Homo sapiens: one gene and its partners. The protein of the gene in region 1 purifies or fractionates together with the protein of each later gene. This does not show direct contact. Each region holds a gene or a part of one and is shown in the gene's direction. Other genes may lie near its edges. The genes, in order: TTLL12, VPS4B and CRHBP.

The links.
Region 2: the proteins of TTLL12 (region 1) and VPS4B fractionate together in Homo sapiens (co-fractionation; one large-scale study listed by BioGRID). This does not show direct contact.
Region 3: the proteins of TTLL12 (region 1) and CRHBP purify together in Homo sapiens (co-immunoprecipitation; one large-scale study listed by IntAct). This does not show direct contact.

Annotation. Positions count from the first base shown.
Region 1 is NC_000022.11:43,170,082-43,173,734, reverse strand, and holds part of TTLL12 (tubulin--tyrosine ligase-like protein 12), read left to right. Parts: coding exon 1-20; intron 21-1,180; coding exon 1,181-1,332; intron 1,333-1,834; coding exon 1,835-1,916; intron 1,917-3,653. UniProt on the Homo sapiens protein: Negatively regulates post-translational modifications of tubulin, including detyrosination of the C-terminus and polyglutamylation of glutamate residues. Also, indirectly promotes histone H4 trimethylation at 'Lys-20' (H4K20me3).
Region 2 is NC_000018.10:63,394,948-63,398,600, reverse strand, and holds part of VPS4B (vacuolar protein sorting-associated protein 4B), read left to right. Parts: intron 1-1,347; coding exon 1,348-1,567; intron 1,568-3,653.
Region 3 is NC_000005.10:76,966,386-76,970,002, forward strand, and holds the end of CRHBP (corticotropin-releasing factor-binding protein), read left to right. Parts: intron 1-2,342; coding exon 2,343-2,500; 3' UTR 2,501-3,086; downstream 3,087-3,617. UniProt on the Homo sapiens protein: Binds CRF and inactivates it. May prevent inappropriate pituitary-adrenal stimulation in pregnancy.

The DNA of each region.
Region 1 (3,653 bases):
ACCGAGAGAGCACCCCCAAGGTGGGCCCCGCAGACCAGGAGCCCCAGGGCTCAGGGCCCTGGCTGGACAGTGAGAGGTGGGGCTAAGGGGACCGAGCATCATGGTCCTTATGGACAGGTCCAGGCTGGGCAGGGTGGCTTACACCTGTAATCTCAGCACTCTGGGAAGTGGAGGAGGATCACTTGAGCCCAGAAGTTTGGAACCAACCTGAGCAACATAGGGAGACCTCGTTTCTACAAGGGAAAAAACTTTAAAAATTATCTGGGCATGTTGGCACACACCTGTAGTCCCAGCTTCTCAGGAGGCTAAGGCAGGAGGATCACTTGAGCCCGGGAGGTTGAGGCTGCAGTGAGCTGTGATCGCGTCACTGCACTCCGCCCTGGGCGACAGAGCAAGACCCAGTCTTTAAAAAAAGAACTGTCCTGGGTGCGTCTAATCGCAAAGTTCCTACCACATAGTGTGCCAGGTATGGCTGCCCAGCAGGGTGAGGTGGCTGAGCCTGGACAAGGAGCCTCTCAGAGCCGTGGTAAAGATTCATAGTGAGGGGACATCCAGAAGCAGTATTGGGATTGCAGGACACAGGATCTGCCTGGACTGTGTACATAGTCAGAGGCTGGCGGGAAATGCATCATGAGGACGATTGTCGTGGAGACTTCAGGCCATGGGATGGGGGTGGATGGAATTATGGGTGAGAATTTATATTTCATTTCAATTAAAAATGGATATAAAGACTTTGCTTCAGGGTGCGGTGGCTCACACCTGTAATCCCAGCACTTTGGGAGGCCAAGGTGGGCGGATCACCTGAGGTCAAGAGTTCGAAACCAGCCTGGCCAACATGGAGAAACCCCTTCTCTACTAAAAATACAGAAATTAGCTGGGGGTGGTGGCGGGCACCTGTAATCCCAGCTACTCAGGAGGCTGAGGCAGGAGAATCGCTTGAACCCGGGAGGCAGAGGTTGCAGTGAGCCAACATTGTGCCACCGCACTCCAGCTTGGGCAACAGAACAAAACTCTGTCTCAAAAAAAAAAAAAAGACTTTGCAGCAACTTAGGCAGGTTTGAAAAGGCAGAAGGAGGAGTAAAGTGCAGCCATGTCTGTGCCCCCTGCGTGGCTTTGTGTGCTCGGGAGCCCCAGGGGGCTCTGTCCTGGCCACCAGCGAGCTTGCACCTGTGTCCTCCAGGTTGTGTCCAAGTACATCGAAAGTCCCGTGTTGTTCCTTCGAGAAGACGTGGGAAAGGTCAAGTTCGACATCCGCTACATCGTGCTGCTGCGGTCAGTGAGGCCCCTACGGTTGTTCGTGTATGATGTGTTCTGGCTGCGGTTCTCCAACCGGTAAGTGGAGGGCCGGCTGGGTCCAGGGTCGGGGAGCTGGGTGACCGGGTGGAGGTAGCGGGTGGGTGATGGGCCCTTTTTGGAATCAGAAAATGTTGTTGGAAGGCACCCTCCATCACTCACCCAGCTAGCGGCCCTTGGAGCCCATCTCCCTTGGTGTTAATTGGCGGTGACTTGCCCTGCCCACCTCAGAGTTCTGGTGTTGCCCACAGTAATGGATGTGAACATTCTTTGTAAAATGGGCACCAACATGAGAACCAGGTGCCATTTTTATGGACCTGCAGAGGCTTCACAGCTAGCACCTCACTCACCTCCACCCCAGCTCAGTGGGGCTGTGGGGCTCCCCCAGCCACACAGACAAGGGAACAGGCTCCCGCCTGAGCAGCAGGTGGTCCTGCCCTGAGCCCTGAACCCCTAGTTGGGAAGGCTGAGTGGGTGGCACCTCCCTCGCAGGGACAAGGCCGCTCAAGAACCCATATGTGTCTGCACACTTGTCTTCCAGGGCCTTTGCACTCAACGACCTGGATGACTACGAGAAGCACTTCACGGTCATGAACTATGACCCGGATGTGGTGCTGAAGCAGGTAGGGCCTGAGGGAGGTGCAGAGCAGGTTCACACAGAGGCCAGGGCACACCCGACCCCACCCCGCCCACACTGCCTCCTAGGAGGACTGGCACACAGGCCAGTCCCAGGAGCCGCCTCCTGAGTTCCTGCTATGGAAGGCGATTGTTAGCGCTGCCATCATGAGCCAGGCTGGGTTCTGTGTTGTCTCAGGTAGGTCTCCCCACGGCACAGAGGGCCACTGGCTGTGTTTGAGATAATGTGGACACAGAGGGGGATGGGTCCAGCAGCAGGTTGAGACAGTGTGTTCCCAGCCGGGGCTTACTCCTCACCACCACTTCAACCGGAAAAGCAGACCACCCTGTGAGTGCCAGGGCAGGCGGGGGCGGGGAGGCCCCACCTGGTCCGGCTGGCTGCTGGCCCGTGACCCTGCCCGGGTCTAGGACCTCCTGTCCTCCCTGGTGCACAGTGTTGAGCGGTGCCCCATGCAGTGGGCACTCAGTGAATGGCAGCTGCACCATCTGAGCACCTGGAGCTCAGGGGCATCTGGACAAAGGCCCTTCCAAGGTGGGGGCGAGAAACCAGAGCTGGCCAGCCAGTGTACGTGGACAGGTAGGCACAGCCTGCACAGAAGCAGGAGGCCAGCTCTGGGTACAGGAAGGAAGAAAGGAAGTCCTGGAAGGCCTCTGTGGCCTGGCTGGTTAATGAGTGTTTCAGATGCACAGAACACCTACCCCACCCTGCCTGTCGCCAGCCTTGCAGGTGCCGCGGACTCCCCATGCAGCCAGCCCCAACGCTCCCCGACCCCTGAACGTGTGGCTGTCATTCCCAGGCATGTCTTTGGTTCTTTTCAGCAGGAGTATGTTCCTGACCATTCAAGCTGCTGTTTTGCTTACTTAGGTTTTTTGTTTTGTTTTGTTTTTTTGAGAGACAATGTCTCACGCTGTCACCCAGGCTGGAGTGCGGAGGCATGATCTGGGCTCACTGCAACCTCAATCTCCTGGGCCCAAGCCATCCTTCTGCCTCAGCCCCCTAAAGTAGCTGGGACTACGGGCACGTGCCTCCACGCCCGGCTAATTTTTTTGTATTTTTAGTAGAGACGGGGTTTCGCCATGTTGCCCAGGCTTGTCTGAAACTCCTGGACTCAAGCGCTCCGCCTGCCTCAGCCTCCTAAAGTGCTGGGATTACAGGCGTGAGCCACCATGCCCGGCCTCCTACTTAGGTTTTTATGTAAATATCATCTTATTCAACGGATCCTTCTGCAGCTTGCTTTGTTGGCTGAGTGGCGTGTTTTGAGGTTTTGAGGTTCGGGCTTGTTGCTAACTGTGGCGGCGATTGGTCATCTGAGGTCTTCACTAATGATAAATCATGGCGCGTGAACATGCGTGGAGGCACCTGGCCATGCCCATGTCCGAGGAGTCCTCTAGGAGGACTTGGAGAAAGGGCCCTGCCATGCACTGGTGACTATACCAGCACACACTCCCCACAGGGGCCGAGTGGTCCTGTTGCTTCTGTCTGTCTTATCCTTGCCTGTGTTGAAGCCTACTCCCTAGGACCCAGACCCCCCAGCAGGGCCCCAGGACATTGTTGGAAGTCGCCCTCAGGTTCTGAGCCCCTCCCTTCTGTACTGTGGGGGTCATCCCGGGAGTCCTCTCCTGGAGCTCTGTGCCTGGGGAGGTACGTCCAGCATGGCATGGATGGCGGGCTTCCATAGGGGCCTTTCCTGGCTTGTTCTTTTCTGGGAGAAACCTGAGCCGAC
Region 2 (3,653 bases), on another chromosome or scaffold:
CTCCGAGAGTGCTGGAATTACAGATGTGAGCCACCGTGCCCAGCCAAGATTTTTTTTTTTTTTAGTAAAAACTATATGTCAGGCCGGGTGTGGTGGCTCATGCCTGTAATCCCAGCACTTTGGGAAACCAAGGTAGGCAGATTGCCTGAGCTCAGGAGTTCAAAACCACCCTGGGCAACGTGGTGAAACCCTGTCTCTACTAAAATCCAAAAAAATTACCTGGCCATGGTGGCGCACACCTGTCTGTAGTCCCAGCTACTCGGGAAGCTGAGGTGGGAGAATCGCTTGAGCCCAGGAGGCGGAGGTTGCAGTGAGCCAAGATTGTGCCACTGCACTCCAGCTTGGGCAACAGAGTGAGACTCCATCTCAAAAAAAAATATATATATATATATATATGTGTGTGTGTGTGTATATATGTATATGTGTATATGTATATATGTATACACACACACATCTATCTATCTAATTTTTAAGTTGAAAATGAAACTTCAGTTCTAGGAAAGGTATACGGACTCTTCACTTTTCACTCTTCACAGTTCTGTATTACATTCATTTATTTTGTATGGTAAAAATTAGCACTTCAGTTTTTGCCACTTTTATCCCATTCACTTGATGATTTGCGCCAGCATTCTAGCTTACCATCCAGTACCAAGAAAGGAAATGTGCAGGGTATTTTTGAAAAATTGCCTTATTCTGCACCCATCTCTAGAGGCAACGGAAACTTTAAATTCTTTTCATTGTCACAGAGAGTTACCTGGAGAAAAAACAGTCTGCTCAGACCACTTAAATTATCCCTCATCGTTGCTTCTCTGTCTCCAAATACCGAAATTCTAAGAAAGCAAGCAAAATTATTGTTAATGAAACATAGTGTTTATTCTTTATAATATAGGATTGTTCTGGATGTATTCATTAAAGTGGACATTTTGTGTAATATATATCCTATAAGATTGTGAGGTAATTCTGTTTTGAATGTAGAGAATTACTGTGTCATCTCTACTCCTGTTTTATATTGTTAATCATTAGTCCCTTGATCAAGAGTTCAGAGTACAATTTTGTGGGAAACTGTAACCCTGTAGGACCTCTTTTTATTTCATGAATTCCAGACATAGGAACACTGTGGCCAAAATAACCCAAAAATGCACGAAAGATTCAGCCACTTCAAACTGGCTCCCAGGCTATTTTGATTTTATTTGTTTGTTTTTAATGTGTTCTGGATATTATCCCTTTAACCTAAATATATATGTTTAACCTTGGCACATACAGGCCCACTTAACTTAGTATCTGTTTCTTCTTGGAAATATCCTAATTTTCAATTAAATATATTCTTGATGTAATTTCTCTTTTAAGATTTGAGAAACGAATTTATATTCCCTTGCCGGAACCCCATGCCCGAGCAGCAATGTTTAAACTGCACCTAGGGACCACTCAGAACAGTCTCACGGAAGCAGACTTTCGGGAACTTGGGAGGAAAACAGATGGTTATTCAGGGGCAGATATAAGTATCATTGTACGTGATGCCCTTATGCAGCCTGTTAGGAAAGTACAGTCAGCTACTCATTTTAAAAAGGTAAGTCATTTTTATCTATCCTTTCCTATCTTTTTTTTTTTTTTTTGAGACAGTCTCACTCTGTTGCCCAGGCTGGAGTGCAGTGGCACTATCTGGGCTTGCTGCAACCTCCGCCTCCCGGGTTCAAGCAATTCTCATGCCTTAGCCTCCTGAGTAGCTGGAATTACAGGCGTGTGCCACCACGCCTGGCTAATTTTTTGTATTTTTAGTAGAGACAGGATTTCACCATGTTGGCCAGGCTGGTCTCGAACTCCTGACTCCAGGTGATCCACCCACCTCGGCCTCCCAAAGGCGTGAGCCACTGCGCCTGGCCCTTTTCCTGTATTTTTAAAATCAAGTTTCAAGACCGTCATTGGTTTGTCTTCAAAGAATTTGGGAGGATTTCAGTGTTGTATAATAATACCATAAGTGGGTTTACATAATAGACATATTTCTGTGTCACTGAAACAAGTTCTTTAATAAAGTTTATTTATTGGCCATTTTTGGCTGGGTGCAGTGCCCCATACCTGTAATCCCAGCACTTTAGGAGGCCGAGGTGGGCAGATCTCTTGAGCTCAGGAGAGACCAGCCTCAGGCAACATGGCAAAACCCCATCTCTGTAAAAAATACAAAAATTAGCTGGATGTGGTGGCACACTCCTGTAGTCCCAGCTACTTGGGAGGCTGAAGTGGGAGAATCTCTTGAGCCCAGGAGGTGGAGGTTGCAGTGAGCCGAGATTGCACCAGTGTACTCCAGCCTGGGTGACACAGTGAGACCCTGTCTTAAAAAAAGAAAAGGCCTTATTAATCATCCTAATGTGTTTTAAATTTTCCTATGAAATGATTTTTGAAGTATTTGTGTATTATTTTGATATAAGTATAGAAACTTAAATGTACAGATGTAAGGCTGCTTCTGACACATCTAGAATATTTTTGAGTAGAATCTGGTGCATTTATACCTCATAAAGTAAAAATAATAATAGCTAATATCTTTTAAATATTCACATGCCTGGCACTGTGTTCTGTCTTTTATCTTACTATTTCATTTGGTCTTCACAAAAATCAGCAAGAGAGGTACATGTAGCCAGCCACCTAATGGTGGTTAGTCTTGGACGTAGGTGCTAACACAGTAGCTAGAGTGGGACAGACATGTGATTTGCCTGGAGGTGAGGTGTGTTTCCAAATCTGAAATCTCAGCCATTCTGCTATCCTGCCCCTCCTGTGTTCTGTTTTGTCTGCAAGAACAAGTTAAGCATCTGTGGCTGAGATAAAGTTTTATAAGAAGGCTGTGGTCTTGAGATACCCAGTTTGAGTAACAATGAACTAGGTAATCTGGACCAACCCTTTTGCTGTGAACAACAGTATCCAGTATTACTCATGAACATACATGTGAAAAACTATTAGCAAACCTAATCTCATAATGTATGTCAAGACTAATATGACTAAGTCACATACGTATATTTATCATGTACCATAATAAGATTTTTTTAAGTTAACAAGCTTGAATTAAAATCTGAATTTGAAGCCTGGCACCATTTACTTGTTATACCTTTTTGAGCAAATTCTATTACTTCTTTAAAGCTCATTTTTATCATTTCTAAAATGGGGATGTGATAATGCTATTTTGAAGTCCTTTCCAATAATGAAGTGATATAATACTCATAAAACACCAGTCGTGGTACTTCAGATGCGTAGGGAATGTTACTCATCCACCCTTCTTCAGCCATTTCATTACTGAAGTACTGTTAAGTTTATGCCACAGCCATTATGTTTTTTCTTAAATTCTCTTTGCCATTTAGAAACTATAAATGCATAGGAACTCAGTCCTTTCCTACTGAGAGTTTGTCACTCAATTCTGCATATTACTGCCAGGGTGAGCTCACATGACGCTGAAGCCAGGTCCTTGTTAGTGGGATGAAGGTGACACAGCCAGATGAGTTTTATCTCTGCAGCTGGGGATCACCAGCTGCAGCAGACCTCTCAGCGGCTCCATCCTTTACTTCTTTTAAAGCTGATTATTTCAGTTAACAAGAAGAAGATTCCCTGTTTATTTTTTGCATTTACTAGTATTTTATTTCTAAAATACTAATCTGGGACCGGTGGTAGAT
Region 3 (3,617 bases), on another chromosome or scaffold:
GCACCCTATGCAGATGAAGAGATAGCCCATGCTTGTTCCACGGCCAGTACAAGGCACTCTCCCTTTCCTTGTGAGATGTGGTGGAAGGGGAGGGTTGTAGGGAGACTAGCCTTTGATCCGTCGCTACTTGGGCTTGGGGGAGATGCGGTTTTTCCTTTTGGTTCAGCTTTAGGAAGTTTGCATTAATTGGGCTTAGGTTCCCTGCCCCCAGACCCAGGTGTTTTCCTTTTGATCCAGCTTTGGGAAGTCAGCACAAATTGGCCTCAGTTTCCCTGCCACCAGGCCTTGGTGTTTTTCCTTGATTCAGCATGAATTGACCTTAAGTTCCCTGCCTCCAGACCCTATTCTCCTGCCTTAATTCTTTTCTTTCTTTATCATATTTCCATGAGCCCCTCCTGAGTTGTTCAGTGTTGAACTATTAAGGACCCTGCCCTTTACATTGGATTTTGTTAGGAATTAGTTCAAAATAATAAATAAATAATAAGTAAAGAAAATAGGACATGTTATAAAGATTAAAGTCCAGAGTAAGATCAGAAAAAGAATGACCTCCAAACTGTTTAATGAAAAATAAATTTGGCTGGGTGTGGTGGTTCATGCCTGTAATCCCAACACTTTGGGAGTCTGAAGCGGGCACATCACTTGAGGTCAGGAGTTTGAGACGAGCCTGGCTAACATGGTGAAACCCCATCTCTATTCAAATTCAAAAATTAGCCAGGTGTGGTGGCACACAACTGTAATCCCAGCTACTGGAGAGGCTGAGTTAGGAGAATTACTTGAACCTGGGAGGCAGAGGTTGCAGCGAGCCAAGATGGCACCACTGCACTCCAGCCTGGATGACAGAGCAAGATCCTGCCACAAAAAAAAGAAAGGAAAGGAAAAGAAAAAGAAATTTGGACCTCCTGGTAGAAGCTTAACTAGACTACCTGGTACTTATATTAAAATAATTATAGGGCTTTTATTTATTATGTCATCCATTTGACTTTTATCTCAATAACTCTATTGAACTGTTTACTTCATTTAAACCCAGGTATGTGTTTGAGTGGTACCCATTACACGAGGACAATGATAGCATTTCTTAAAATTTAAAAACACCTTATAGAGACAAAGTGAGGAAAAGAAAGATTGAGAAAACTAAAACAGCAGAAATGATTATTGTAGAGCAGATAAATCTTGCCTCAGGAATCAGCTTGGATAAACAAATAGAATAAATAAAAGGAAAGTAATTCTTAATAAAAGTAATATGAGTTTCAATATATAACCCATACAGAGGAGATATAAAAGTTGTCAGATCTTATATAAATAATGAATAAGATTGGATTTTTTTTTTTTTTGAGATGGAGTCTCACTTTGTTGCCCAGGCTGGGGTGCAGTGGTGTGATCTCGACCCACCACAACCACTGCCTCCCAGGTTCAAGCAATTCTTCTGCCTCAGCCTCCCGAGTAGCTGGGACTACAGGTGCGCACCACCATGCCTGGCTAATTTTTGTATTTTTAGTAGAGACGGGGTTTCACTATGTTGGCCAGGCTGGTCTCAAACTCCTGACCTCGTGATCCACCCACGTCGGCCTCCCAAAGTGCTGGGATTACAGGCATGAGCCACCGTGCCCAGCTGAATAAGATTGGATTTAAGAGAAGCAAGGATATCAGAAGCCATTTCATATAAATAGTACAGAAAAAATCAGAGAAAAGTTGTAAGTGGATAATAAAACAAAAACTAGTATGTTCAGTGTATGTCTATACGATGCAAATGATCTTTTTGTTTATGTATAAAACAGTTTTTGTATAAATTCAGAAAATGATAAACAGGTGTTTTTTTTTGTTTTTTTTTTTTTTGGTCTACATAAATGTCCCGCAGTACATTCCATCCTCTAGCCCCCACTAAATGCCCCTTGCAACCCTAGATCGGTGACAACCAAAAACTGCCACTGCAAATTTCCGACCTGTCCTTAGAGGGCCGTACTGTTTCCACTGCAATCCCTGAACCCGAGCAACTGTGCACACTCCAGACTGATTGCCTTTGCCTGCCTTTACTACTTAGGCTTTGCAGGCAAAAAAGGCCGAGGAGACATCTTCTTGCCTCTTTCCAGCTAGTTTTATTTTTTAATAGTGTTCTTGCACATGAGGAGAAAGACTGAATTCAATTGCACTATTCTATAACTAATTATAAGTTATAATAAAAATGAAACAAAAACATTTCAACTGATAGTAGATGCATGGTTTGGGTACATGAGAGGAAGATAGGTCTCCTTGCTTTCATTATGTTTAAGTGATCCCGTCATTTAAATGATGACTGTGTGGTTTCTAACCTGCTGGGAAACTTTTATCTTTTCCATCCATTATAGCCCAGATGAAAGTTGGCTGTGACAACACTGTGGTGCGCATGGTCTCCAGTGGAAAACACGTAAATCGTGTGACTTTTGAGTATCGTCAGCTGGAGCCGTACGAGCTGGAAAACCCAAATGGAAACAGTATCGGGGAATTCTGTTTGTCTGGTCTTTGAATAACCAACCCAGTGATTTACATGCTGATAGCTAAGTGAGTTTTTAATGGCCATTGTGTATGATTTTGATGCACAACTAGTTAAAAGCCTTTCATACCAGTCAGTATTCCCAGCCTTGAGCGCACGCGCGCACACACACACACACATACACACACGCATTAATTTTTGTACTTTGCTTCTTTTATGTTTGTAATCTGTAAATGAACACATGGCAGAAAATAACCCCTGATTGGTAGGATCATAGTTCTAAATGGAAATGTTTGTAATTCTTTGATGTGCTACAAACCTGAAACTGGTAAGACAAGCACAAAGCAACGTGCAATACAAAAATCGTATCTCAAGGGAAAATACTCAAAGAAAGAAAAGTGGCAGCACTTATATTAGTTTTATAACAGGATAAAGTCTTGTGTATAGCAAAGTAGTTGCATCTGTTTATTTTCTATTTATTATTGTTACAATAGGTAATAGTTATAGCAATTATTTATTGATTTGTAACAACTTGTTTTTAACCAAACTTTGTAGCATGGAAAAAATTTTCCATCCACAAATACAAACATGAATAAATACATTCAGAATGTTGGCACCATGATGTTGGGCTTTATTTGCTTTCCTGAGTAGTCCTCTTTCTTGTTACCATCAGAAAATAATGTTATCATGTGGTGCAGAGCCAAATGCTGAACTAAATCATTTTGGACTTCTCAGAGCTAGAACTCTGGGCCATTGAAGTAGAATTATTTAGAGGAGAGGTAGAATTGCAGTGTTTGCACAGGCAACACTAGCTGGTCCTGGCAGGGAAGCGGGTGCAGAGATTCATTTTCCGCTATCCTCAGAATACGTGTTTTTGTCACGATATACATTTCTACAAAGACAGCAAGGACCTTACAACAACTCTCATAGACACAATTTGCAGAAATCTGAATACTTCTTTGATACTGAAGGCAGTTTACTGTTGACTGAGCTTTGTTCCGTGTTTGGCTTAAAACTGAGTGTGTAGTATGTAAAAGACATCTTGGAGCAAAAAGGAAGGTTCTAAGCTACAAAGAAAATTCTTTTTTTTTTTTTTTTTTTTTTTTTTTTTTTTGAGACAGTCTTGGCTCTGTCACCTAGGCTGGAGTAC